Linked DNA regions of Homo sapiens. The protein of the gene in region 7 purifies or fractionates together with the protein of the main gene of each other region. This does not show direct contact. Each region holds a gene or a part of one and is shown on either strand. Other genes may lie near its edges.

Region 1 (4,193 bases), on a different chromosome or scaffold from region 7:
GTGGATCACCAGAGGTCAGGAGTTTGAAACCAACCTGGCCAATATGTTGAAACCCCATCTCTACTAAAAATACAAAATTATCCAGGCATGGTGGCGCATGCCTGTAATCCCAGCTACTTGGGAGGCTGCGGCAGGAGAATCAATTGAACCTGGGAGGCAGAGGTTGCAGTGAGCTGAGATCATGCCATTGCACTCCAGCCTGGGCAACAAGAGTGAAACTCCATCTCAAAAAAAAAAAAAAATACAATTTGGCCACACAAAAAAATGAAAACCTGTCATTTGCATTAACATGGATGGAACTAGAGGTCATTATGTTAAGTGAAGTAAGTCAGACACAGAAAGACAAATATGTCACTCATATGCATCAGCTTAAAAAGTTGACCTCATAGAGGTAGAGTAGAATGATAGCTACCAGAGGCTGGGAAGGGTGTGTGAGTAGTGGGGGGATGAACAGAGGTTGGCTGGTGGGTTCAAACATTCAGTTAGGCAGAAGAAATAAGTTCTGATGTTCTATAGCAGAGTAGGGAGACTATAGTTTATAACAATGTATTGTATATTTCAAAATAGCTAAAAGAGGGGATTTGAAATGTTCCCAAAACATAGAAATAATAAATATTCCAGGTAATAGATACATGAAGCACCCTGACTTGATTATTATGTATTCTATGCATATAATAAAATATCACATGTACCCCATCAATATGTATTAATATTACATATCATTTAAATTTTTTAAAAAACAGAGGGGTCCTTGGAGAGGTAATTAGGTCATATGGCTCCACCCACATGAATAGGACTAGTGCTTTTATAACAGAAGCTTGAGGGACACTGTTTGCTTCTCCTGCCATGTGAGGACACAGCTAGAAGCCATTTTTGAAGCAGAGAGTAAGCCCCCACCTGACACCAAACCTGCTGGTGCTTTGATCTTGGACTTCCCATCCTCTAGAACTGTGAACAATGCATTTCTATTGTATATAAATTACCAAGTCTGAGGTATTTTGTTATAGCTGCCCAAACAGACTAAGACACTTGCTAAAGATTTGTTGCTAGCATTTGCATATCAGCATTTGCATAATGTTTGACTAATTGGCTTTTGGGATCCCTTCTAATCCTAAAATTTTATGTTTTAGAGTCATGTGAACAAAGGAGTATTAACCATGATTTGTTAAACAAGAAAGCCCAAAGATAAAATGGAATGAGCATAGGCCAATGTTTCAGTCCCTGAGAAATTCCTCTGATGGTTATTCATGAAAAGCAATGACAGGCCAGGCGCAGTGGCTCATGCCTATAATCCCAATACTTTGGGAGACTGAGGCGGGTAGATCACCTGAGGTCAGGAGTTCGAGACCAGCCTGGCCCACATGGTGAAACCCTGTTTCTACTAAAAAAAAATCCAAAAGTTAGCCAGGCATGAAGGCAGGTGCCTGTAATCCCAGCTACTTGGGAGGCTGAGGCAGGAGAATCACTTGAACCCAGGAGGCAGAGGTTGCAGTGAGCTGAGATCACGCCACTGCACTCCAGCCTGAGCAACAGAGCCAGACTCAGTCTCAAAAAAAAAAAAAAAACTTGCTCTAACCTCACACTCAGTAAAGCAATCAGCAAGCAGCCATCCAACCATTTGCTAAAATAACTTCATTAAAAAATTATTTATTGTCAGTGCATACATTCTGCAAATATATCCATCAAAACAGCACTGTTCTTCTCATTTATTGGGCGATTCAGAAGTTTTACTTTGAATTTCTTTGGTGTTAAGTAGAAATAGTCTGTTGCACTGCTAACAAGGTCATCGGACTCAAAAAACATGTAACAATTATCTAAATCACCATTGATACTTAAAACTCCAATTAGTATAAAAGCTAATTCATGCCCAAACATAACAAACAAGACTTTATCTTCTATGCCTACATCAGTTTTCCAAGTCAATATTTTTAGGCTATATAATCTTATTGAAGTACAAAATGCAGAGTTATATTTGAAAGATATACTTAACTGTATCTCCATCAGCAGGTATTTGTGTGGGCATAGCCATTGTTCTTTCTGCCATGCTACACTAAAAGAGCTGGAAATTTAAAAAAATAAACATTTTTAAAAATTTCTTACAAAGGCTATATTCTTACTATATAATTTAGATAATTAGGGGGCATAATATGGGTATTTTTGCAAGCTTTAGTTTTTAGTTCACACTATTCATCTGTTTTAAACTGTGGCTGTCTTGCTAGATGGGCTTCTACATGATGAATAATATGTAATATTCAACTTATAATGTAGAGTAATACATTTAACCATAAGCACACAAAAAGCATCTTAAAGTTAAACTCCCTTTGGAAATCAAGAGGATAAGAGCATTCTTCTTCTTTAAATGACTCCATGGTCGTAAGAAAGGAAAGTAGAAAATTTTGCTTTAAAAAATGGTTAAAAAAAAAACAAAACAAGACACTCACAAGCACTTAACTTTCCAGAGTAGCATACCAGAGGAGGCTTAGGCATTTGAATTTACCCATTGAAAGAGAATTGTGAAAGCAGACCTTAAAAAACCTAAACAAGTTCTTTAGACACTGAACTAAAATAATGATAATTCTCATTTATGAAGCATCTATTATACAGCTAGCATTGTGCTAAGGGTTTATGTGCTTTATTTACCTCTGTTAGTCCTCATAGTAGATCTGAGATGTATGTATTTTCATTGCCATATGCCAGGTGAAAAAATTCAGACTCAGAAAGATTAAATAACTTACTTTCCCAGGGATTCAGCTGTGCAGCAGACACAGGTCCGAACTGATTCCAAGCTGGTGTCCTTTCTACTGTCCCCAGTTGTGGACCAAATAAATATTCACTGTGTTTGTAACAGTTGGGAACAGGGAGGAGAGGTACAAGAGAGCGTGCTGTGCTCATCTCCAAGCAGAACTGCCTGAGAAGGCCATGCTACCCTACTTTTGAACACAGCACAGAGATACTAAGAATATGAGACATGTTTCAAAAGGAAATATTATATATTTATAAAGCAAGTATTTGAAATATTTGAGAAGCAAACAGAATCAAAGAATGGTTCTGTGCCATAATCTCTTCACTTGCTCTATCCTGAGGATTATTGCACTTTAGTATACAAACGTATATCATTTTCCCTAAAATTAAGCAATGTTTTCTGATATAGATAGAGTTCTGTTTTGTGGTGTGGTTTAATCTAGACCAGTATGTATGAAGGTTTTTAAAATTTATTTATTTATCAGAAACTTAATGGTGGACATTGCAGTAATTTTGAGCCTTTTTTTTTTTTTGCTCTACCTCCTGGGTTCACACCATTCTCCTGCCTCAGCCTCCCTAGTAGCTGGGACTACAGGCACCCGCCACCACGCCCAGCTAATTTTTTGTATTTTTAGTAAAGATGAGGTTTCACTGTGTTAGCCAGGATAGTCTCAATCTCCTGACCTTGTGATCCACCTGCCTCAGCCTCCCAAAGTGCTGGGATTACAGGTGTGAGCCACCGCACCTGGCCAGTAATTTCTAGCCTTTAATGGAAATCAGCAACAAACATTGTTGATTTAAGTCAACAATGTTTGGCCAGGCACAGTGGCTAACACCTATAATCCCAGCACTTTGGGAGGCCGAGGCAGGCGGATTACTTGAGGCCAAGAGTTTCAGACCAGACTGGCCAACATGGCAAAATCCCATCTCTACTAAAAATACAAAACTTAGCTGGGCATAGCGGTGCAGGCCTGTAATCCCAGCAACTCAGGAGGCTGAGGCACGAGAATTGCTTGAACCCAGAAGGTGGAGGTTGCAGTGAGCCAAGATCCCGCCACTGCATTCCAGCCTGGGAGACAGAACAAGACTCTGACTCAAAAAATAAATAACAATGTTTATTTAAATCAACAATAAATATTGTTTTTGAAATACTGTAGTAATTTGAAGTAAACTACTACAAAATTCAAGAGTCTCTATCTCTGTATAATGACTGAATTTTTGGCAAATCTGCCAAAAATTATTTGAGAACTAGAGATGCAACTTATCTTGTATTTAAAAGCCTAATTAAGTGTCTTAAACAAAGAGGGGTTTATTTCTTTCACATAAGTCTAGAGCAGAAGTTTTTCAAAGTACGATCACTGGGCCCTGAGGATTCCTGAGATTCTTTTGCGGGGGGCCTATGGGTTCAATTTTTTTCTAATAATACTAGGGTTTTTTGTTTTTTGTTTTTG
Region 2 (3,500 bases), on a different chromosome or scaffold from region 7:
TTCCTTACTTTCTGGCAGTATAAGCTGCTCCAGGCTTATCTTGCATGTATGTTTCCTGCTCCAGCCCTGGAACAGCCATTTCTTCAAGCATCTCTGTTCTTATTGTGGAATAGCATTGGAAACCAAGATCTGGGTGCCGGGTATGCTCATTGCTACCAGGTTGCCATTGCCTTTAAGTTCTCTTCACTGACAGAACAAGAAAATATATGTTTGGATAGTAACCCATGCATACACATACACCTGTAAATATTTCTGTATGGATCCATCTGTATCTCTGTTAAGCTAAACGTGAGTTCATAGTGATGTTGGAAACATGATCTTAGCTTCTGGAAAAATTATACTAAAATTCTAGAAGTCTTGAAAAATAAAATAGCAGTCTACCTCCTGCCTTAAACTTCTGTTTTATTTCTCTGACTGCGACAGATCTTCTGGATGTCCTTTCCAGCTTTAAGATTCCAAGGTCACTTGTCAGTTTGGAAGCCAGCTCACTGGGTTAATTTTGTGAACAATGGATGGGCACCTGTGATGCTAATGCTGCTTAGTAAGCAGGAGTCAGGCGTTTGGCCCTATGACCTAGAATATTCTCCCAATGATGCACTGACCCCAACTGGAGGAGTTGGCTTTGAGGGAGTCAGATTACTCAGCCAGCATATGGACTTTTGCAAGCATCTGGGAATTCTAACTTGTGTTCTTGGAAAACTTTTGTCTAAATTCTAGGAAGAAGAGCGCCTAAATAAACTCCGACTGGAAAGCGAAGGCTCTCCTGAAAGTAAGTTGTGCTGCTGCCATGGTAGTTACCAGTTAACTTGTGCTAGTGTTGGAAGTATGGATAATTGTGATGTGGCAGGAGAGCTAATGATTTCATCCCGGTGAGCTGTGTGGGTGAGTTTATGAAAAAGCTTTTAGGTCCAGTGCTTAAGGTCTGCACTACCCACGTCAGAATCCTTACCTTTAATGTGTCCTTTGTGTTTTGGTTGTTATTTCATGAGTACACCAAGGCTAGTGTAGCAGAATGAAAGAACTCCTGGACTGGCCTCATGGCAGATGGCAACCAAATCCTGCAGAGACTTGTGGAAATGATTGCATGGATCCAAGGCTACACTCCTTCAGCCTGGTGTTTTTCTCCCAGCTGAAATCTCAAAGGCTGTATGATACATAAGTGTGGTTGTCAGCCTGAAAGATGGAGAGTATTCTGTGTAGTCCTGCTATTCATTAACCTTTAACAAATCAATTTCTGTTTCCGTCTAACCACTTTAAGCAGGAAGCTCTGTAAGTGTATTATCTTCTGGGTGATGTAGTTAGATTAAATTCAGCAGCTATCTGTTAAAGTCATGCTGTGTGGCAAGCATTGTGCTGGGCCCTTGACTAAGAGCCAGAGGGATCCATCGTAGCGCCTATACTCAAAAGGGCTTACATTCTTAGTGAGGGAACTGCAGGTGTATGTAAAACTACCTCTGAAAAGCAGAATGAAATAAGTCCTTCTTACTTGTTCTAAGTTGAAATTTTTCAAATTTTAGTGGTACTTATCTAGCATGCCATAAATAAGGGAGGGGAAAGTTTTGGAGCAGTAGTTTTCAAACTGTGTTCCATGGTGCCCCAGGGGGTTCCCAGAGATGCTTTGGAGGAGTAGATCACACAAACAGGTCTACCTCAGTCAGAGCAGCTCTCTTTTGAGTGTTATGTGTTGGCATTCCGAATAAGGTTTCTTTTGAGAAGGAATTTTAAAAAATATTTGAATAGCGACTACCTTAGGGGAATATTCTTTCAGGAAAGCCGAGGAGGGGAGAGGTTCAGTGGAGGCAAAGAATAACAACATAAAAAAGCCACTTTGAGATTTAAATTAATGTTTTGGTGTCTTAAAGGGATAAACTTCAAAAATAGATAAAAATTCTAATATATGGATTTTTTGGGTGTTAGGTAAAGCTTTAACTGTTTTACCTAAATTCATAAAGTTTTCTGAACAAGGAAGTTCTTTATGGTGGGGAAGTGTAATAGATTTTTGTAGTTTTGAAGAAATAACTTTTAATTAGCTAAATGTTGCTAGAAGTCTGACATTTTTTGGAGTCTTAGGATAAGGCTGTGTTGTTTTTTTTTTTTTGAGATGGGGTCTTGCTATGCTGTCCAGGCTGATCTTAAGATACTGGGCTCAAGTGATCCTTCTACCTCAGCCTCCCAAGTAGCTGGGATTACAGGCATATGCCACTGTGCCTGGCTTAGGCTGCTTTTGATTGACCACATTATTAAATGTGATTATTTGAGGACCAACCAGATGTCTTTGCAGAATATCTGTAGCCTAGGAATAAATATGTAGCAGCAAAATCTGAACACCATAGATCTCCTCTTAAGAACTGTCCTTTTCTTTACCCTACTCCTTTGACTCAACAATGACTCTGTCAAAGCCTCTTGTTTCTTCCTTTACTCTGTAATTGGCTGTATCTTCATGAATCTTAGGCTGCAGATAAAATTAATGTCCCTTATTTTCCTGCATGTTGGTTTGAAATTGTCCTGCTTTGGTTATGTCCTCAGTCTGCCCATCTTTCAAAGCCCAGATCAGGCCAAGTATGATGGCTCATGCCTCTAATCCCAGCACTTTGGGAGACTGAGGCGGGAGGATCTTTTAGGCCAGGAGTTCGAGATCAGACTGGGCAACGTAGCAAGACTGTGTTTCTACAAAACATAATGGAATATAAAATTAGCAAGGTGTGGTGGCACAGACCTGTAGAACTAACTACTTGGGCGGTGAGGTGGGAGGATGGGTTGACTCCAGGAGGTCAGGGCTGCAGAGAGCTATGGTCCCACCACTGCATTCTAACCTGGGAACAGAGTGAGACCCTATCTCAAAAAAAAAAAAAAAAAAGCCCGGATTAGATACCAGCTTTATCCATGTAGACTAGCTTGATGCCTACTTCTCCAGCCTAATGTCGTTTTTTCACCTTGAAAGTTTCACAAGACATTACTTGTTACTCCCCACCTGGTATTACAGTTTTTAGATTGTAAGCTCTGAGGGCAGCCTTGAACTACCTTTGTATCCCAGTAGTTCTTCTCACAGTACCTTGCACATTGTAGGTATTCAGTTAATGCTTGGTTGAGTGAATATATAACCAAATATCAGGGTTGTTTTTTTCATTTACTGTATCTGTCTCTTTGAGCTAGTTTGACCTCAGTGACCTTAAAGAAATTCCAGAAAAGAAGAAACTATGGATTATATTAAGATGACTGGAGGGCCAGGCACGGTGGCTCATGCCTGTAATCCCAGCACTTTGGGAGGCCAAGGTGGGCAGATCACCTGAGGTTAGGAGTTTAAGACCACCCTGGCCAACATGATGAAACCCTGTCTCTGCTAAAATACAAAAATTAGCCGGGCGTGGTGGCGGAAGCCTGTAATCTCAGCTACTCGGGAGGCTGAGGCAGGAGAATTGCTTGAACCTGGGAGGTGGAGCGTGCAGTGAGCCGAGATTGTGCCACTGCACTCCAGCCTGGGTGACAGAGCAAGACTCTGT
Region 3 (4,087 bases), on a different chromosome or scaffold from region 7:
GCACCAATACAATTGATTACACAAAAATTATATTTAGCCCTACAATTTTTATATTTGACTTTTAAAAGCAATTTGAGATACCCACAAGACATATACAGCAACTTAATTTCTTCTTTCTCCAACTGCCATCATCTCCTGCCTCAAAGCTTAAGCTCCATTATCAGTGGTTTAGAAGGCAATTGGGCAGTGAGTGAGGTCAGAACCTGGTCATCAGTTAATCCATTCCTGGATAATCAAGTGTTGTAAATCCAGATTAACAACAAAAAGATATAGTTAATTCTTTGGATGGGCCTGACCTATCTATCTAGTGCTCTTAAAACACACCATACAACTAATGTTGTATTAAATCTCTATAAATTAAGTTCTTGAGAAGTTAAATATTACAATACTATAATATTAAAAGCATGGACACTTTTTTTTTTTTTTTTGAGACAGACTCTCACTCTGTCACCCAGGCTGGAGTGTAGTGGCGCGATCTCCACTCACTGTAACCTCCGCCCTCCGAGTTCAAGCGATTCTCCTGCCTCAGCCTCCTGAGTAGCTGGGATTACAGGCGCCTGCCACCGCACCCGGCTAATTTTTTGTATGTTTAGTAGAGACGGGGTTTCACCATGTTGGCCAGGCTGGTCTTGAACTCCTGACCTCGTGATCCACCCGCCTGGGCCTCCCAAAGTGCTGGGATTACAGGCGTGAGCCACGGTGCCCGGCCAAGCATGGCCGCATATTAAATTGGTTGTGGATATTTTATACAATGTCCATTTCTCTACTTTTAAATTTAATTTAGAATGCAAAATCAGGAAATGCTAGTAACACACATTATATAATAGCACTTGTTTCACAATCATCAGAACTACAGCATATACAGTATCTTTTATCAGTACTAATGTGTTATTTCCAAGGAATCCTACATTTTTCTTGAATTTACACATCTCAATATCTTCCAAAGTCTCTTTATAATTTATTTGAAAATGCTGCCTTTCATCTCAAGAAGTCAAACACATTTGCAGATTATTCCTTTTTAAATGAAGTCAAAGCTGACATATCTATGAGAGTGCATGACAAATGTAAAGAAACAACAATAGAAAATTGGGCCCATGATAGAGGTTTGTTTACCCATGATACAGGTATCTGAATCCACTGATCAATGTGATGCTATAAAAACTGATGAGGAAGGAACTGTGGCAAAAATGACAGCATGCTAGTCTGAGGGGAGCTGCCAACTGGTTGCCACGTGGTATGGAACTAGTAGTTGCCAGATCTCATTTTTCTCAAAGACCCAGAAATCTGGCTTTTTATGTAAACTCTCAGGATTAAACGTTAACATAATGAAAGGCATCTTAACCCCCTTCTCTGCTTACTTCTAGATTGTGCCAAAGGCTAAATTTTCAGTTTGGTCTTTCTACAATAGGTACCATGTTAATTAAGTTGGGTATCAAGTACATTTTAGTTTTGATGTATTTTGCACAGAAAACATTTTCAAGTTCATAGCAATATTACAGATTAAAAAAAATACCACAAACTACTTTGGGCTCTGATGCCAATCATTCTGGACTCTGTGCCTCTTAAACTTTTCCAATAAAGTATCTCAAGGAAATATACTGTACAGAATCCTCCTAGTCTCCAAGTTGAGGGCAGAGTTTCCGGAGATAAACTTCAAGAAAGTTACAAAAAAAATTTTTTTTAAACCAACACTTCATACAAATTTTGGCTTCTACCCCATAGCGTACTCAGGCTCCTTTTAATACAAAAGCTGCTCTGTTGCTTCCCTCAATAAAATTTACCACGTTTATTTCATGGCTTCACATAATCTGTAGCACAAGGCTCCCTAACTCCAGGGCACAAGTCACCTATTTGAGAAGGAAGGAGTCAGAGTTTTACCCACTAAAACATTTTTTTTTTCTGGAAGCCAAAGGTCTTTCTTGGAATATGTAGCTTTTAAGGAGTAAATATACACTTAACGACTTCAATATACTCTTAAAAACTTTAATCTTAACACTATAGTATTCTATAAGAGCCTGCTGAATGAGGGCAATTTAGTAAATATTTAGTAAATATTTGGTTTAACTCATCATCCAGTTTTAGAACCATTCCAAATGTTTTTAGATTAATACACGACATTTGTTTTCAACCTAATTTTCCCTTGACGCACCGCATCCCCTTCCACTAGTCTAGCAGCCCCATGGACAAACCTTTCTCCTCTCCCTCGTTATTCCTCTGTGATAAATTCACCCTGTCTTCCCACAAAGATCCTTCTTCCAAAACCCAGATCCCGGGCGACGCCTCTCCGCGCAGAAGCCGCGGGAGAAGGAGGAGAAAGAGGAGGAGTAAAGCAGGCCCTCTCGACGTCGGCCTGTGGGGAGCGATGCCGACAAGCAGGAGCGGTCCCGGCTTCGGAAAGGGCCCACCCTGAGGAATGGTCCGGCCGGGCCTAGCGAGGATGTCCCTACCGCGATGCTGGTTCCGTTACCCAGGGTGGACAGGCGCGGAAGCGGGACGGGGAAGAGCGATAGTTTCGCGGCGTTTGCCCAGCCTCAACCCCTGGGATGCGGGTGAGAGACATGGAGGACTGGTCAGAATTTGCGCGTCCCTGGGGCCGCACAAAAGGCTCCCAGCCGGCCTCCCGCAATGTCCTCACCTGTACCTGGCAGCCGACCCCCTGGATCCGCAGCGCCGCCAGGAGAAGTCCTGCGCAGCGCTGGGAAACGACAAAAGAAGGCAGCCTGACGGGCAGCGACAGCCACAGCAACAGCAACAGCCCCACTGCCGCCGGGGATTCCAGGTTCGGTTCCCGGGAACGAGTCCTGCCCCTCTTCTTTTGCCCCGCCTCCGCCCCAGAGGGGCGAGGATCCCGGATGTTGCCTCCTCGGCGCTGTGAATCACCGCCCTTTCTTCTCAGGCCCCAGCCCTTCCGAATCCGCTACGGGTGCTGCAAGGCCTGGGAAGAGTTTCGATGTCTCTAGGGTGGCTAGAGCGTCCTCCCGCGCTCAGTCGCGCTGCAGGTGACGGCGCCCGGAGGCTGTCGGGAAGTAGGCGGGGTGACGTGTGGTTGACGAGCTCGGCGGCGGGTTTGCTGAGATCTGTGGCCGGCGGCAGCTGGTGCGGGGGGCAGCTGAGAGCGAGAGGTGGATCGGGGCGGTGTGTGGCCAGGGCCATGACGGGCAATGCCGGGGAGTGGTGCCTCATGGAAAGCGACCCCGGGGTCTTCACCGAGCTCATTAAAGGATTCGGTGAGAACCAAGGGGACCGTCCTGGGCCTGGGGTCACGGGAGGAGGCCCAAGCTGGGCATGGAGTGGTTCCCTGCGGCCACCGCCGCCCCGCGTCTGGAGAGGTGACTTCAGGAACCTGGAGTCCGGGTGGGGGAAATGTAGATGTTCTGCCCTCTCCTCAGCTCGAGACAGTCGCGTTTCCACAGTAATTTGTAGAGCCACACCACGAGGGCAAGGATCGTGTCAGTCTTGTGCCTGCTGCATCCTCAGGACCTGGCACCCAAATCCTGTAATTGACTTGAGGGCCCTCGCTCCCCAAGCTCTTAAGCACGTATTGCCCTTTGCACTGCCCCTTCTCTGCGGCGCGCACCTTATCCCGGGCTGGTGAGGTCAAGTGCATTGCTCAGGCCATTAGTCCTGCAGAAGCCACCCTAGGGTGCGCCTTCTCAAGGGTGAGGTGTCTGCGGCTCAAGCCGCCCAGGAACTCGAGATTCTGGTTATTCAAAGCAGAACGCCTTGAATGTGTGAATAGCTCTTCGGGACGTCCACACACGCTGACTGCGTGGGCCTGAAAGGCCACTTCACTGGTTCCGCTCTCTGCTCATTTCTGGCTTCCGGTGAAGTGAGTTTTCTTGAGCTAGTGTTCTAGACTAGAGGCCACATGCTTTCCTCACAGTTTCTCTCTGGCTGTATTTAGTGCCTTTCGTCCTAAATAATCAACACATTTTACTTTTTATCCTTCCCTATTTATCTTGTTCTTAGTCTCTTCTTTGGACAGTACGTTTTTATCTATTTCCCAAGTGTTATTGACTCTACGATGTTAAAACTTTTACGCGGGATTAACAATTAAACGTTGATGTAGATATTGCCTGTTGTACAC
Region 4 (3,500 bases), on a different chromosome or scaffold from region 7:
TCCTCCTCATCTGTTTTCCGACGGCGGAAGAAGCTTTTAAATGATATCCAGCGCTTAGGTTTTGCATCAGCTGCCCGCCTGCTGCCTTCAGAGTGCAAAACTGATTCAGCTTCTGTTGACCTGGTAGGGCTGGTTGGCTTGGTCCAGTTGGTGAAATGCCTCTGCAAAAGGTTACCTGCATGGTAAGGAGAAGAAGTAGAGCGTGGCGGGGGAAAGGGAGCTGGTGGCTCACTTTGGGGGCTAGTCACTAATTTGGAGGGAGAGGGGGTGACTGGCTTTATGGATGGGTCTTTCTGTACTTTGGTGGTAGGACTGTCTGTGGTCTGAGGTGCTTCAGCCTCACCACTAGGCTGAGATGTAAAGAGAGATTTGGGCCGGACTGGCGTACTCTTAGGTGTGCTCTTAGCAACATCAGCATCTGGAGGAATGGCATAAAGCTCTTCCACACTGCAAGCTTTAGGGCCAGATTGAGGTGTTTCTGGAGGAGACTGTGGGGGTTGGATTGAAGCCACAATCTGAGAAAGCACTGTGCTTGCTTTCTCTCTGGTGCTGCTGCTGCCCACCATCTGAGACTCCTGAGTGCCTTCTATTTTGGCCACAGGCTCTTGAGTGGCTCTCTGGATCTTTGCTGGGGAGCTGTGGCTGGAACTATAGCTTCTCTGTGGTGAAGACTGACCTCTGTTGAGACAGTTGTTAAACTCTTGAACCTTCTGAGCCACTGAGCCCCTTTTATGCTCTGTGCTGTTTGAAAACCCTTTAGTTTGAAGACAGTCAGTGGTTTTGCTAGTGGTGTTATCAGGCACTTTGCTTTCTGTTTCTATTTCTTCATAAGTATGGCTTATTACACTTGTGGTTTTTTCCTTCACTGAGAGTTCTCCACTTGTTCCCAGAAAACTTTTGTAGATAGCTAGATTGTCATATGCATTTGGATTGATAACAATGGGAACTTTGATAGCATTTTTGGAACTCCGAGCATAAGTTGGCTCGTCATGAATGATAATTGGAAAAGGTGGCATACCAGCATTGTTATAACTATTAAATTTAATTTCAGACAAATTAGGTGACTTAACAGGGATGGTTTTGGAGGAAATGTTTGTAGCTGTGGGTGATGTAGGTGCTGATTTGTGACAGTTTTTCCTTGGAGGAACATTTGGTCCAGTTCCACTAGTAATTAGTTCTACTTTAGGTATCTTTTGTCGTGGACTGGTGCTAGAAGTCCATACTTCTTGGTATCGAATTGCACTGGATTTTTGGAAATGGGCACTTATTTGTCCTGGTGTCAATGAAGATGATGTAACTGGAGAGTTTGGAGTAGAGGATGAGCTTTTTGTCTTGGGGCTGTTAACAGGGCCCTCGAGGTGCTCACTGGCCATGGCTGCTGACACATCCACGACAGTATATGGCTTGCACAATGGCTGTTCCAGGTTCACAACTCGGTAAGGTTTTGCTTGCTCTTCTGTGGGGACAAGGTTTATGGTTACTGCTTGCCCAGCAACATCTGTAGAGGCTTTACTTTCTTCCTTCTCAGTTTGTACAGCAATCTTGCCATCTTTCTCTTCTAATCGGAGAGCAAGGACTGCTTTGTGGGTCTCTGGAACTTTTATTGAGCTTTTGGAAGCCTGTGATGAATCTTTATCCTGATTATTACTAGAGGGACTTTCATAATTGGGCTCAATTTCCTTCATGTCCTTAGAATCTCCTGGGTTACCAGGAGATAATCCCCCATTACAAATCTTCTGGGATAAACTACTGGCTGTCTCAGAACGTGATTCTTCTGTTAAAGAAGAATCTGGTGATGTGGAGTCAGATGACACCATGCTCTGAATGCTTCCTTGTCCATAAGAGACCACAGAATTTTCCTCATAACCATTCAGGATTTCATCATAGCTGTCATCATAGTCCACAGCACAGATTCTCTGCAGAGACTTGTTTCGCAGGGGGATGGTATTCCATTTTTTGTCCACAAAGAATCGAACAGGAGACAATGTGTTTGCTCTGAAGTTGGCAAAGCGAGGTTGCCCTCTCATGCGAATCTCCATGGCCAACAGCTCTTCATCACTCTCATCCCAACTCTCGTGCTCCTCCTCCATGTTACTGAAAAGTACATCCTCTTCACTCTCCTCGCCACTGGAAAACTCTGGGTAACAGAACCGGCCCCCTTCATTACTAATCACTTCTGTGCTCCCACTCAGAATAACATGCTTGCCCTGAGTTTCCTTTATCCCACCTATCATGCAACTTGGTGGAAGCTTTCTTTCCAATGATCGTTTATAGCAATCATTTATTCTTCCCAAGAATGTTTCTCTGGAGTTTGTTTCATTTCCTCTTATCTGAGGGGCAGTATCCAAGCCTGCTATCTCCTTTAACACTTCAGTTAGTCCATTATTGTTATCTGACATCTTCTTTGCACTATCATTATTGCCATAAGGCTTAGGAACATGGCTAATTCCTTCATCATCTTCATTATTATTGTTAAGTGGTTTCTGACTCAAGGCAGCTCTGTTTCGGTTCCACCCTATGATGACAGGTTTGTTCTCACAGTGTTCTTGGATGCTAAGCTCACCACATATACTTTGCCCATCTGCCACTATCATAGTGGGCTTCACAGCTATAGTGGGTTTTTTAGCCACAGGAGGCCGGAAATTGCCCGTGTTCCTGATGCGGTGGTTGTTACTGTGATTGGCATTAGTTTTCACATTGCCATGGGTGATGGGTGCCTTCTCAGGGTCTGGGGGAAGCTGGTGCAAACTTTTAGGTTTAAAGCAATTCTTGCATTCACCAGGTTTCCAAACATGTTCAGTAAAGGTGTTACAAGCAGACATTTTTAAAAATAGAACTTCACAGACAATGCTTTTCTTTCAGTGCATGACAAAACTTTCATCTGTTAGTTTTCACTTCCCCTATGTGTTACAGCAGCTCTTCTAAGAATGATCAATCTGTGGAGGGGAAAAGAAGACAAAAAATCTGAATGAAAAAGGCACTATGAGACTTACCATTATTAGTGACTTGAAAAAACTGACTCCATTCCTAAACTTTTCCTTAAATTAAAAGACTGAGAGCTAAACTAATTTGTGTACTTTGTAATTTCCCTTTAGCCAATCAGCATTTGGAAAGTGAGCTTTTTAACTATAATTTTATGCACTCTTATCTATCCATACATAATCTTCAGCTTGATGTCTCTGTTGCAATGATTCTGTGACCTTCCCTCCCAGAAATGCCTTTGATACCACTCCTTCTGTTATCCACCAATTTCTCTAACACTTCCCAGCCCATTATAGATTCCTCTTCTTCCACCTACCCTTGAATGTTTTAGACATTTCGTAGACTCCTCAAACTCAATGCATTGAAAATGAAGCTTCGGGGCTGGGTGCAGTGGCTCATGCCTGTAATCTCAGCATGTTGGGAGGCAGGCCAAGGTGGGAAGATCCCTTGAGCCCAGGAGTTCAAGACCAGCCTGGCTAACATGATAAAATCCCATCTCTAAAAAAAATATAAAAATT
Region 5 (3,500 bases), on a different chromosome or scaffold from region 7:
CCATTGATGGAAACAATCCAGAAACAGGGTTCTCATCGTCCAGGCCTTCTTGCTGTACAACCAAAAGACAGGCAGCTGGTATTTATCTTTTCACTTAAAGCCTCAGAAGTTAGCAACTTTATAGATAAGGGCAGTCCTGATTTTCAACCCAACTGCATTTGTACAAAACAGTAGAGTTAGCCTATCCTTTCCTGCCTTAAATCCTGGTGCTGCTTGCTTCTCTTCCTAATAAATGTCCTTCGAGCATCCTTTTTTTTTTTTTTTTCTCCGTAATAGGGCACTTCTGTCTGCATTAAAAACTCATTCAGGCAGATATACTTTCTCTTCAATGATTTTTTCTTAATGGCGCCTGGGAACTGTCTGCTGTCTCTTGGTTGGCAGAAGCTACTTCGCCTATTTCTTGACATTTTTTAAGCAAACCTCTTCCTAAAATTATCAAACCATCCTTTGCTGGCATTAAATTCTCCAGCTTTAGATCCTTCACTTTCTTTTTGCTTTAAGTTGTCATATTTTTCTTGAATCATATTAGATGTAAGTATGCCTTTCTACAGCAATCCTGCATCTACATAAAAGCTGCATTTTCAATGTGAGATAAAAAGATGTTCTGCAAAAAGTGCAAGCCTGCTGGAGTAGCTGCAGTGATGGGTTCATGACTATTCTTTTCTTTGTTTACAATGGTCCTTACATTGGATTTGTTTATCTTGAAATGGAGGGCAAACGCAGCCGCAGACCTCAATCCATGGTATGTATCAGGCAATTCAACTTTTTCTTGTAATGTCATGACTTTTCTCAGCTTCTTAGGAGCACTTCCAGCATCACTAGTGGCACTTTGTATGGGTCCCATGGTGTCATTCAAGGTTTATGGTATTGCACTAAACATGATAAAAAAATACAAGAGAATTCCAAGAGATCAATTTTTACTATGATACACAATTTACTAAAGAGATGAACCACTCACACAAAGATGATTAGTGTCACATGACATTTTATGCTCAATACTTGTAACACTTGAGTTCACTGCAATAGCAACAGGTGGCCACAAAATTATTACAGTAGTACAGTATTACTAGAGTTAATTTTATGCCATTATGATTTAATGCATCTTTACATTTCTTTACATTTCTCTCAACTGTAAATGGTGCCATGTATGGTCTATAAATATTTGTAAACTTTGATAAATTTTAACTCTTTATAACAGATTTGTGCATATTTATAAACTAGTATCTATCTACATATATTTTATGCGTTCACGACATATCTAACTTTTTCTTAATGTTTTTGATATTTCTAGGCCATGTGGTTCATCTGTTTTTTCAAACTGTCACAAATCTTCAAAAAAATTTTCAATATATCTATGGAAAAAAAATAGATGTATAAGTGGGCCCATGGAGTTCAAATCTGTGTTGTTCAAGGGTCAACTGTAATTACAAAATTAGATGGAGGAAAATAGCAACTCAGAAACAAGCACTTCGAATAAGAGCAGTTTTAAGGATGATTTCACTAGTTGCTGGGATGACAGACATGTCAAGATCCTAATAATGAATTTTTTTTCCCGTTTTTTTTTTTTTTTTTTTTTTTTTTGAGATAGGTTCTTGCTCTATCACCCAGGCTGACTGCAGTGGCTCTATCATGGCTCACTGCAGCCTCAATCCCCCACCCCTGGGCTCAGGTGATCCCCCCACCTCAGCCTCCTAAGTAGCTGTGACTATAAGTGTGTGTCACCACACTCGACTAATTTTTTTGTTCTTTGTAGAGATGGGGTCTTACTATGTTGCCCTGGCTGGTGTCAAACTCCTGGGCTTGAGTGATCCTCCTGTCTCAGCCTCCCAAAGTGTTGGGATTACAGGCATGAGCCATCACGTCTGGCCAATAATGGAAGTTTTTTAAATAAGTAAATTGGCTGATGTCTGCTTAAGCCCACCAGGAATGATGCAAAACTAATTTATTCCAAATAAATGTTTTAAAATCTGAGCAAAGAATCCATAGGTTGAAGAAAGAAGAATAAAAATATGGTCAGGAAAGAGAAAGGAACATTAGTCAATTTTACATCATCAAGTCAAGGTCATTAATGTAAAAATCTTACCTGCCCAGTCCCAACAGCTCCACAGTACACCACGTTGGAGCCCATGCACCCCAGCAACTCTTGGGCAGCAGCAAATTCATCTTCAACTCCTCCCACCATAAACGTGAGGTTCCCAGATCGTGCAGCTCCTACACCTGAATCATTTGGGGGTAAAGGGATAGAAGCAAAAGAATATATTTCTTAAAATGTTTAGGCAGGTAATAAAATTAGAGAAACCAACTAAAAACATCCTGCCTCCAATCTGTATTTATGCCAGGCATGTATAAGATACTCTAAATCTCTACAGAAATATTCAGCAATCAAGTATCACCCAGATTAATCACAAACCAAGAGAGACATACAGATTCAGTTGTACTCTCAATCTCAACTCACCTTAATCATTTTGGCACAATCATGGCCTAACAGATAAGGGAACTTAAAATGTAAATGTTATTATTCCCATGCATCTATTATTCTCCTAAGAAACCTACTAAGTTATAGAAAGTATACAAAAAAAAAGTTTTACCTGGGCCCTGATCAGCAAAGGAGCAGCCAGAGAGAGGTCTGCTGCCCACGTTTGGATTCGGGGTTCTTGCTCACTCACCCACTCTCCAAATACTATCTATAAGTGAGATCTACAAAGAGGGAGACCTGGCTCTTTGTTCCTTAAACAAGTAGGCATTTCAGATGGTAGATTCTTTTTTTAAGGCAAGGAAAACTTTGCTTATTTTGACTGATTATTCTCATATGTACTTTTCAATATTATTTGATTTTTCTTTTCCTTCCTGCTATACATCTTTTGGGCAATTTATTTTTAGTGATATGAGCAAGAAGAAGAAATAAACTTTAACACTGACTTCACTACTCCTTAGTAGCTTTTAACAGAGGCTTAATGCATGTTCATTCATTCTAATGATTGGAGAAAGAACCTTCAATTTAGCACAGAAAATATAATCTAGACTTGTCCTAAAAGGGAGAGGAAAAGCTTCATTCATCTAAATTTTTATTAACTATAAAATAAAACCAAGAGCGCTATTACTGTTTTTAATATTGAAAGAAATCTTGATTCATAATTTTCAAGTTAGGCTTTATTTTTCAAAACTTCCCAGGCAAGTATGTGGAAGAACTTATTTTACAGTACAGTAAGAACAAAGAAACTGTAATTGTCTGTAGTATGTATCAAATCTGGCCATTAGACAGCTGCAGGTAATGGCCTGCTTTTGGATTTAATGTGTTCAATGAAATACAGTATTTATATATTTTTTAAAAGCCCAAGTGAAGAGATACCTATTTCATTCAAATTGTGAATATTTTGCTATTGTCAAATCAAATAGCTTTCTATTTTACAGTTTATACTATTCATAAGCAATTATTAAAAGCCAAAAAAGTCAGCATTATGCTAGCCAAACAATCTTGGAAGAGTGAGTGCCCACATGTT
Region 6 (4,213 bases), on a different chromosome or scaffold from region 7:
CACAAAGCAACATATCCAGGAAGGACAAAGGGCTTGAACCTGTCCTACCCTAAACAGGAAGCATTTCAGGAGAGGACTGAGCAGGAGATATAGACTGTTGTGACTGTGGCTTTACTACATCAAAGGCTGCAGTGGATCTCAATAATGCAGAATGTTTCCTTTTGTAACTCATAGTGAATATGACTGGACAAGGAAATTATTTTGTAATTTGTTTCCTGAAAGATAAAGGAGTTAGAACATAGGATCTTTCATTGATTCTACAGAATCTTAAGACTCCTTCAGGGATGGCAGTCATTCCTACCGTGCTGAACATCATGTTGTCACGGTCAGAATCAGAACTAAATTGATTAAGGGTCTGAAACAGTTTGGCAACTCTTGGGCACTTATGCTGATAAGAAAAGTGATGAGACAGGGTAATGAAAAGAGGCTGCAAGAAATGACCATTCGTGCATTCAGCCAACATTTAGGCCACCCTCCTGTATTCCAGGCACTGTACATGGCACTGAGTATGCAAAGCAAAAGGAGTCATGGTCTACTGGCGGGAGCCTTCTCAGTGGAGAAAAGATCAACAAGAAAAGTGCCTGCTGGAGACCTCTCCTAGGGCATAAACCAATATAGAGGTGGGGCAGCTACGTCAGCCTGGGGTGTCCTTAGGCAGAACAGAAAGTGAGAATCAGAGCAGTATCTCATTTCTGAACACCTGGATTGTAGCTTTCCCTTGACTGTCAAAGGAGGTGGTTTTAAAAATCAAGCCAAACAGGTTTCCATCTTTTAGGAAGACCCTGGAACGTGCCAGTTGATTCTGACCATTTCTCATGAACAGAAACACCTAGGAAGGGAGAACTGGTGAGTTTCAAGAGGAGGAAGTCCCTCAAAAGGGGCTGTGTTTCGTAAACGGCGCCCCAAAAGGGCTGAACTACTTCGATCTGGAGGAAAAAGACTCAGGCACTGAGGGAAGGGGAGGGTGCACGTCTGGAGTAATTTTAAGGCCTTTTCCGTGTTATGTGATGTGGCAATAAGGAAAGATTTGTTCGTTTTATTATTTTTTTAATTTTTAAAGATTTTCTTTTCCCCCCTTTTCCCCCTCCCAGCCACTCCGGTTTGGGTTTGCCACAAGACTATAATTCCTTTAGAAAGTGGAGTCGAATTCATAAAAGTGATGGGGGGAGGGGCGCGGAGAGGGAAGGCTGGGAGCCCCAGGGAGTCTTCACGACCGCTCAGCTCCCGGCGCGAGTGGAGGTCGGTGTGGGGAGAAGCGGCTCCCGCCCGGGATGGCTAATACTCTGCGAGCCCCGGCAGCCCGCGGCCGGCGGGGTGACTAGGCGGCGGGCGCGGAGGGTCTGCGGCGGGCGGGCGGCGCTGCAGCAGCCTGGGCACGGCTGCCGCCGCCCGCGGGCGCGAGTGTGCGCGGGTGTGGAAGGCCGGCGTGCGAGCCGTGAGGGGTGTGCGCGCGTGAGCCGGAGCGGGGCTCGCCCCTCGCCGGCGCCCGCCGCCCAGCCGGTGATTGCTCTCTGGCTGTCCCCGGCACCTCGGCCCCCACGGCCGTTGGTCCGGGCGGGTGAGGGAGAAAGTGAGACTTGGTGTCATCACCATCCATTGTCAGAAGGGGAGGAAATTGGAATCCAGCAGCGGCGAGCAGCAGCTGGGCGGTCACATCTGGGAATGCAAAGCCGACCTCCCCCTCCTCCTCCTCCTCCCCCTCCTCCTCCTCCTCTTCTCTCACCCAGGATCACTTCCGAAACCACTTCGCCTTCAGCCCCTGCCTCGGCCAGAGGTTTCATTTTTAACTGAATATTTACGAAAGCTGGAAGCGTGCGAGGGGGGTGGGGTGGGGTGGAAATAGCGGCTGCTTCTTTTCCAGGGATTTATTTAATGGGGATGTGTTCAAGGCAAGAGCGAATTCAGAAGGATATCGACGTCGTGATCCAGAAGTCCAGAGCTGAGAAGGACTGCCTGTTTGCAGGTGAGTTCTTGCTTTTCCAGAACCTCGGACCCAGCGCCCCCTTCCCAGTTTTCTGACCGCGACGTCTGTGGCTGGGGGTGGGGTGGAGGGTTGCACGTCCCCATTCTGGGGTTCATTTGGCAACAGCTGCTGCAACGAGCGCGGGAGCCAAAAGGGGGAGGGGGCGCCAGCCTCTCCCCTTCCCCTCCCCCACCGCCAAGTCTGAGGCAGCCACCAGCTTTGAGGGCAGAGCCCGCGTGGCCGGAGCGGGGGTCTAGGCGAAGGGGCAGTGCGTGGTATTTCCAGCCCCGCGTAGTGCCCGAAGCCTCCAAGCACGCTTCCTGGGTTCCAGCAGCGGCGGCAGAGCGGGGTTGGTTTGCGCAATGGGCTGAGCGGCGGCGGCCGGGAATGGAGCCTGCTGCGCTGCGCTGCGCTTGTAAGCTGCGCCCGGCGCCGAGGACCCCCGGGGGGCAGCGCTCGGCCCATCTCCGGCCCCTTCGGCTCCCTCTAGTCCCCTCCGACTGGCAAAGAGAAGGGATTCCTCGGATTCCCAAGGCACCCAGCGCCCCTGCCTGGGGGTCGCCTTTCGTCCATTTTGCTCCCCCGGGATTTTGCTTTCGCTACCGCGAGCCCGGCTGAGGCTGCTTCCGGCCTCCCCTATCGGGAAATTCCCGCTGTTGCCATGGCACCCGGCACTTGTTGCGGGGGGCGGCCTCCCGCTGCACCCAGTCGGGGGCGCGCCGCATCCCCTCGGACGCGGCGCAGAGGGACCTCGCCGCCCTCTAGCCCTTGCCTTCTGCCCGGCCAGGCCTCCCCTGACACCACCGAATGTGGGGCTCAAGTCCTGATCGGGGTTAAAACAAATCCACTCCAGGGGTAGCTTTTGACGGGACTTTCTGTTTCAGATTTCAGATACTCTGACTCCACCTTTACTTTTACCTACGTTGGCGGCCCCAGAAGGTATTTATGTGTATAGAGTTGCTTCATTTCCTGTTCACACTCTTGTGTTTCCTTTGTTCTTAGCGTGTTCCGTGTTCGGGTATTTTGGTTGCTTGTTTGTTTGATTATTGTGGCTTTTCTTTACCTGCTACCCAAGCCTGACGTCCCTCGGTTTTAAATAGCAGGAGGAGGGGAATCAATGTTTGATTCAGGTGTTTCGAGGACCACGCCACAGGCAATGAGCAGAACTCTTCATGTTGAAACTGTTCTGCTACAGTACTAGATTGCTCTCAGGCGATTTGGGGTTGATACAGGCACGCCGGTGCAAAACTGGAATACTGGATATGAAGTGAAATGTATAAAAGACATAAAATGTCACAAAATAGTTTGATCAGAAGTGTTGATTTTCCTGGTGAGTTGGGGCTGCGTGTTTCCATGTTTTCTGAAGGTTTACATAAACATGCAGCCTGCCAATTCTCTGTACATTTTTTTTTCAATGAGTGGTATTTCGGTTTTCACGTATAGAAATTGGAGACTTATATGTAGCTGGAGTGGATGACTTCTTTCTTTTGGGGGAAGAATGAGAGATGCACATTTCGTTAGTAAATTGTGAACAACTTGAAACAAACCCAAATCCAATTTTGAATTTAGGAAGTAGAGTTAAAATGAAAGGTAGCCATTCAAATACTATGCCTTGCTACCTTCACTTGTTGAGTTAGGATTTTCTTCCTTTTAGCCCTTTAGGGACACAGTAGTTTAAAAGAGCAGTAGCCACATATGAGAAGTACCAGATTTAGCTTAGAGGGAATTCCTTAGACCAGCCCTGCTGTTAGGACTTGACATTCAATATTGTTTGATCACATTCCAAAATATATCTTAGCTAATGGAAACATTTATAAACATATAAATTGCAAAAGAAGCTTTCTTGTGTACATACATTTTTAAAAGCTTGAAATTGATGTGAACTTTTAAAAACACGTAGGATCTGTATTACATTATACATCTCAAAACATTTAAAGTGAATATCATTCCAGTATATGCAATATACCTAAGCCCCAGAATTAGCACATTGATTTACTAGTTGAAAATATAACAGTGAATCACCAAACTTAAGTGTATACTTTTTGGGAGAGAATGAAATTACAGTATTTCTTAATTTACTGTAATGTCATCTTTGTAATTATGAATTAATAATTCAATGAGAGGAGACTTGGTTGATTAAATTAACGCTGGTCCTACACATTATATCTAAAGGATCTTCGTATATGACTAATATCCTCTTGGATTATTTTAACAGTTAAAATATACAAAGTGGCCCATTAAAAACAGAGT
Region 7 (3,500 bases):
CTGGCCCATAGGATACAATACAATACAATATTTGATGAGCAAATGTGTTTATTATACATTCTGTTATGTTAGTTACGATAGTATATTACAGTTTGCCTTATACTGCAATTTATTTAAGAGCAAGGCATATGTATAACTCACTTCTATGCCCCTTACCCAATACAATGTTATATAGTAGGTTCTCAATAAATTTTAGCCAAATTAAAATTTTTAGTCTTCAGTCTCAAATATGGCTAGCTTTATTACATAGTCAGTATACTTTATTAAAGCATTGACTAACTGAACTTGAATGGAACTAATAATTTTTAACTCTGAAAAGCATGGAACATGTGGGACAAATATGGAGAGGAGAGAGCTAGAAAAGATCTAATTCTGTATGTAGGAAATGCAGAAGTCTCAGCCTAACCCCCAAATTACGCATTTTCAGGTGAGATCCAAACCCACACAGCAAAAGCTTAGAGCATTGAACTAAAATTTGAATCACTGCTGCAAGTCTCAGGATTAACCTCTGGATAAAACATGCATGGAAAAAAAACCGAAACCAACAAGTAAAGGCCTAGAGAACTGACGTGAGATTGGAAAAATCTGTAAAAGTCTCAGACTAATCCGTAAACTAGGTATGTGTAAGACAGCCTCAAAACAGCATAACAAAGGCTTAGAGAATGTGACTGAGACTTGGTCAACTGTCTGCTCGGACACTAAGACAGAACTTATGGTCTGATTTTAACTGGGCTTGACTGCTAACAACAAACATCAACATCCTTAAGATTTTAACAAGACACACAGTTTACACAACATAGCATGCACAACATCTAAGGTGCAATCTCAAATTACTCAACATACAAAGAATCAGGAAAATTGAACAACTCTCAGGAGAAAAGACAAGCCACCTCTGAGATAATCCAGATGCTCAAACTATCAAGCAAAACTTTAAAGCAGCAATTATAACCATGTTCCAACGGTGACAGAAAACACAATGGAATGAATCAAAAGACAGAAATTCTCAGCAGAGAAACCATAAAAAAGCACCAAATGAAAAATTTTCAATTGAAAATTATAATAACTGAAACTTCCGGGTTGAATAGCAGAATGGAGATGACAGGGAAAAAATCAGTGAATTTGAAGATTGATAGAAATTATCCAATTTGAAGAAGGGAAAAAGACAGCAATTAAAATGCATGTTATAGAACCTTGGAGACCTATAGATCTAACGTGTCATTGGTGGTCCAGATGGAAAAGAAAAAGACACTGATGGAGAAAAAAAAGTTTTAAAATTCTATATCTAGACAGAATGAATGAAGGCATTTTCAAGTCAAGGAAAAGTAAAGAAATTCATTGCCAATAGACTTCCTCTAGAAACATTTTAAAAGAAGTTCTTCAGAAGGTAAACTGGAACAACAAGAACAGAAAACCCATAGTTCTAAAACATCCTTTTGTTTTCAAAATTTTTAGTGTACCTTTTAAAATTGTTTTAAACTCATGTAACAGCCTCTCATCTTTCTGTAATTATACTTCTATAACTGTTATATTTATTGCCAGTCTTTTTTTAATCAGAATTAGAAATGCTTCTCTTCATGTATCTGAAGATGTCACAAAAGCTGCTTTTAAACCCAAATTTTCACAAAAGCTCTTATTAGCTTACTAGGATTTATTTTTCCCCACATTTTTTGGGGGGCCTCCCAAAGCACTGGGATTACAGGTGTGAGCCACCACGTCCAGCCACACATGCTTATTAATCAATCTCCAAATCTGTGTATGAATTTCAGTTAAAAATTTCCAGCCCTTAATAATATAGTGAAAGAAATACTGGGAAGTTCTGGGTAACCAAAAAATAAGTTTTAAGACAAAGAAAAATGACAGATATAGTTAACTTCAGTTGTAAGCACTGGAAAGAATCTATGACAAATATCTGAAATTGCATCTATGTGAAATGCCTCACAGTATCTTTGAGTCTTCAAGCACAGTCACATTTCTAATGAGGTTTGGTTTACAGTAATACTCAGTTCCACAGCACACATTAAACAGAAAGCAGAAGCATGAGGAGAAGTTAGGAAGGAATTCACCTAAAATTCAAACTGTGTGCAGATAATCTATCTACTCACTAGACAGCATTCGTACAGTTGAGAAAGTGGAAGATTGCTGCTCTGAAAAAAACAAAGGGAGTTTCTGGTTTTAAAATGGGTGTCTACCCTCAAACACCAACATGATCTAGAATGCCCCTTAAAGAGACAGGGTTTGTGGTGTTACCTTTTTTTCTTTTCTTTTCTGTGTGATTCTTATTTTTAAAAATTTTTATTTAATTTTAGAGATGGAGTCCCGCTATGGTGCCCAGACTGAAATCAAACTCCTGGGCTTAAGGGATCTTTCTGCCTAAGCCTCCTGAGTAGCTGGGACAACAGTTGCATGCTACTAACTCTTAATTAAAAGAGATTAAGAAAAAAAAAAACCCCTTCAATTTGAAACATAGTAATATAAAACCAAATGAATTATGATTAGTGTTTTTATTTCTGCAAAGCTATTAAATAAGGAATAATGATATAACCAAATATCAGCTGATTTAGGAATAAATGACTTATTTTGTCAGGAAAATATAAACATGCCACTATTTTCAATTACAGTTTGGCCACCTTGCTACCATCACTTTGACAGGCTATCTTAACATCTTTTAAATGTTAATTTCAATGAATATACATTATCTCTGTGGAAGTCATTCAAATATAAGAATAAACAACCATAGGAAATAATGACTAATAGGCAATGGCAACAAATAACTAACTGGAGCTACAACTTGACATATGCTCGTAAAAGATCAGAGAGGTCTGAAGGCTGACTGCAGAAGAAATTTCTCCTTTGTCTCACGTATATATCTTGTTGGGGCAATGAGAACTGCTGAGGGGGAAAAAAGCATTAAAATCTATCTGTAGGAGTTGGGTTAATCTGCAAAGGCAAGGTCACAGTTAAATAAAATTTCACTGAATTATACCACAGTCAGAAAAATTTATAACTAAAAGTTTAGTTATAAAAGTCCCTTAGAGTGAGAGAAGGGAGAATGAGTGGTAAGTAGTAAAAAAACAAAAACAATGATAGAAGAAAACAGAATGAAAGGAAACTACGTATACATAGTGAATTTCTGGGATAGCTTGATCACTCTTGATATTTTGTGAGAATCCTCGACAATTACTTTGATGCACATAGGAAAATACAAGCATGGAGCTCTGTTGTACATCTTAAATATTCCTCAGCATGTAATAGTTTCAGAACTCATCTTTTTGTGGATTTCACAAAAAGAAAACTCATGGCATTTGTAAACTGAATCATGAAAAAATCTGTTTTAAGCCATGTTTTGTTTATATGTATAAAGGTAAATGCAGTTCATTTAATATACACTCATTTGAAGAACAATGATTTGGGATAAAAAATGACTTTCTCAGGTATTTTAGTGTGATGAATATTTCTTTAAAGAGGACACATTGTGTGTATGTAATAGGATGGCAACCAAT

The links.
Region 1: the proteins of PRMT3 (region 7) and SEPTIN14 purify together in Homo sapiens (affinity purification with mass spectrometry, with the first as the bait; one large-scale study listed by BioGRID). This does not show direct contact.
Region 2: the proteins of PRMT3 (region 7) and HACD3 purify together in Homo sapiens (affinity purification with mass spectrometry, with the first as the bait; one large-scale study listed by BioGRID). This does not show direct contact.
Region 3: the proteins of PRMT3 (region 7) and RO60 fractionate together in Homo sapiens (co-fractionation; one large-scale study listed by BioGRID). This does not show direct contact.
Region 4: the proteins of PRMT3 (region 7) and PEAK1 purify together in Homo sapiens (affinity purification with mass spectrometry, with the first as the bait; one large-scale study listed by BioGRID). This does not show direct contact.
Region 5: the proteins of PRMT3 (region 7) and HIBADH purify together in Homo sapiens (affinity purification with mass spectrometry, with the first as the bait; one large-scale study listed by BioGRID). This does not show direct contact.
Region 6: the proteins of PRMT3 (region 7) and PARP8 purify together in Homo sapiens (affinity purification with mass spectrometry; one large-scale study listed by BioGRID and IntAct). This does not show direct contact.

Annotation. Positions count from the first base shown.
Region 1 is NC_000007.14:55,859,953-55,864,145, forward strand, and holds the start of SEPTIN14 (septin-14), read right to left. Parts: upstream 2,801-4,193; 5' UTR 2,736-2,800; intron 2,060-2,735; 5' UTR 2,045-2,059; coding exon 1,991-2,044; intron 1-1,990. UniProt on the Homo sapiens protein: Filament-forming cytoskeletal GTPase. Involved in the migration of cortical neurons and the formation of neuron leading processes during embryonic development.
Region 2 is NC_000015.10:65,557,963-65,561,462, forward strand, and holds part of HACD3 (very-long-chain (3R)-3-hydroxyacyl-CoA dehydratase 3), read left to right. Parts: intron 1-717; coding exon 718-769; intron 770-3,500. UniProt on the Homo sapiens protein: Catalyzes the third of the four reactions of the long-chain fatty acids elongation cycle. This endoplasmic reticulum-bound enzymatic process, allows the addition of two carbons to the chain of long- and very long-chain fatty acids/VLCFAs per cycle.
Region 3 is NC_000001.11:193,058,325-193,062,411, reverse strand, and holds the start of RO60 (RNA-binding protein RO60), read right to left. Parts: upstream 2,801-4,087; 5' UTR 2,636-2,800; exon of another isoform or gene 2,550-2,635; coding exon of another isoform or gene 2,414-2,549; exon of another isoform or gene 86-2,413; intron 1-85. Other genes in the region: UCHL5 (ubiquitin carboxyl-terminal hydrolase isozyme L5), read left to right, coding at 2,414-2,549. UniProt on the Homo sapiens protein: RNA-binding protein that binds to misfolded non-coding RNAs, pre-5S rRNA, and several small cytoplasmic RNA molecules known as Y RNAs.
Region 4 is NC_000015.10:77,179,105-77,182,604, forward strand, and holds part of PEAK1 (inactive tyrosine-protein kinase PEAK1), read right to left. Parts: exon of another isoform or gene 3,299-3,500; intron 2,937-3,298; 5' UTR 2,823-2,936; coding exon 1-2,822. UniProt on the Homo sapiens protein: Probable catalytically inactive kinase. Scaffolding protein that regulates the cytoskeleton to control cell spreading and migration by modulating focal adhesion dynamics. Acts as a scaffold for mediating EGFR signaling.
Region 5 is NC_000007.14:27,540,884-27,544,383, forward strand, and holds part of HIBADH (3-hydroxyisobutyrate dehydrogenase, mitochondrial isoform 1 precursor), read right to left. Parts: intron 2,218-3,500; coding exon 2,084-2,217; intron 1-2,083.
Region 6 is NC_000005.10:50,665,224-50,669,436, forward strand, and holds the start of PARP8 (protein mono-ADP-ribosyltransferase PARP8), read left to right. Parts: upstream 1-1,413; 5' UTR 1,414-1,662; coding exon of another isoform or gene 1,663-1,774; 5' UTR 1,775-1,861; coding exon of another isoform or gene 1,862-1,872; coding exon 1,873-1,963; intron 1,964-2,190; exon of another isoform or gene 2,191-2,350; coding exon of another isoform or gene 2,351-2,378; intron 2,379-2,847; coding exon 2,848-2,902; intron 2,903-4,213. UniProt on the Homo sapiens protein: Mono-ADP-ribosyltransferase that mediates mono-ADP-ribosylation of target proteins.
Region 7 is NC_000011.10:20,488,716-20,492,215, reverse strand, and holds part of PRMT3 (protein arginine N-methyltransferase 3), read right to left. Parts: intron 1-3,500. UniProt on the Homo sapiens protein: Protein-arginine N-methyltransferase that catalyzes both the monomethylation and asymmetric dimethylation of the guanidino nitrogens of arginine residues in target proteins, and therefore falls into the group of type I methyltransferases.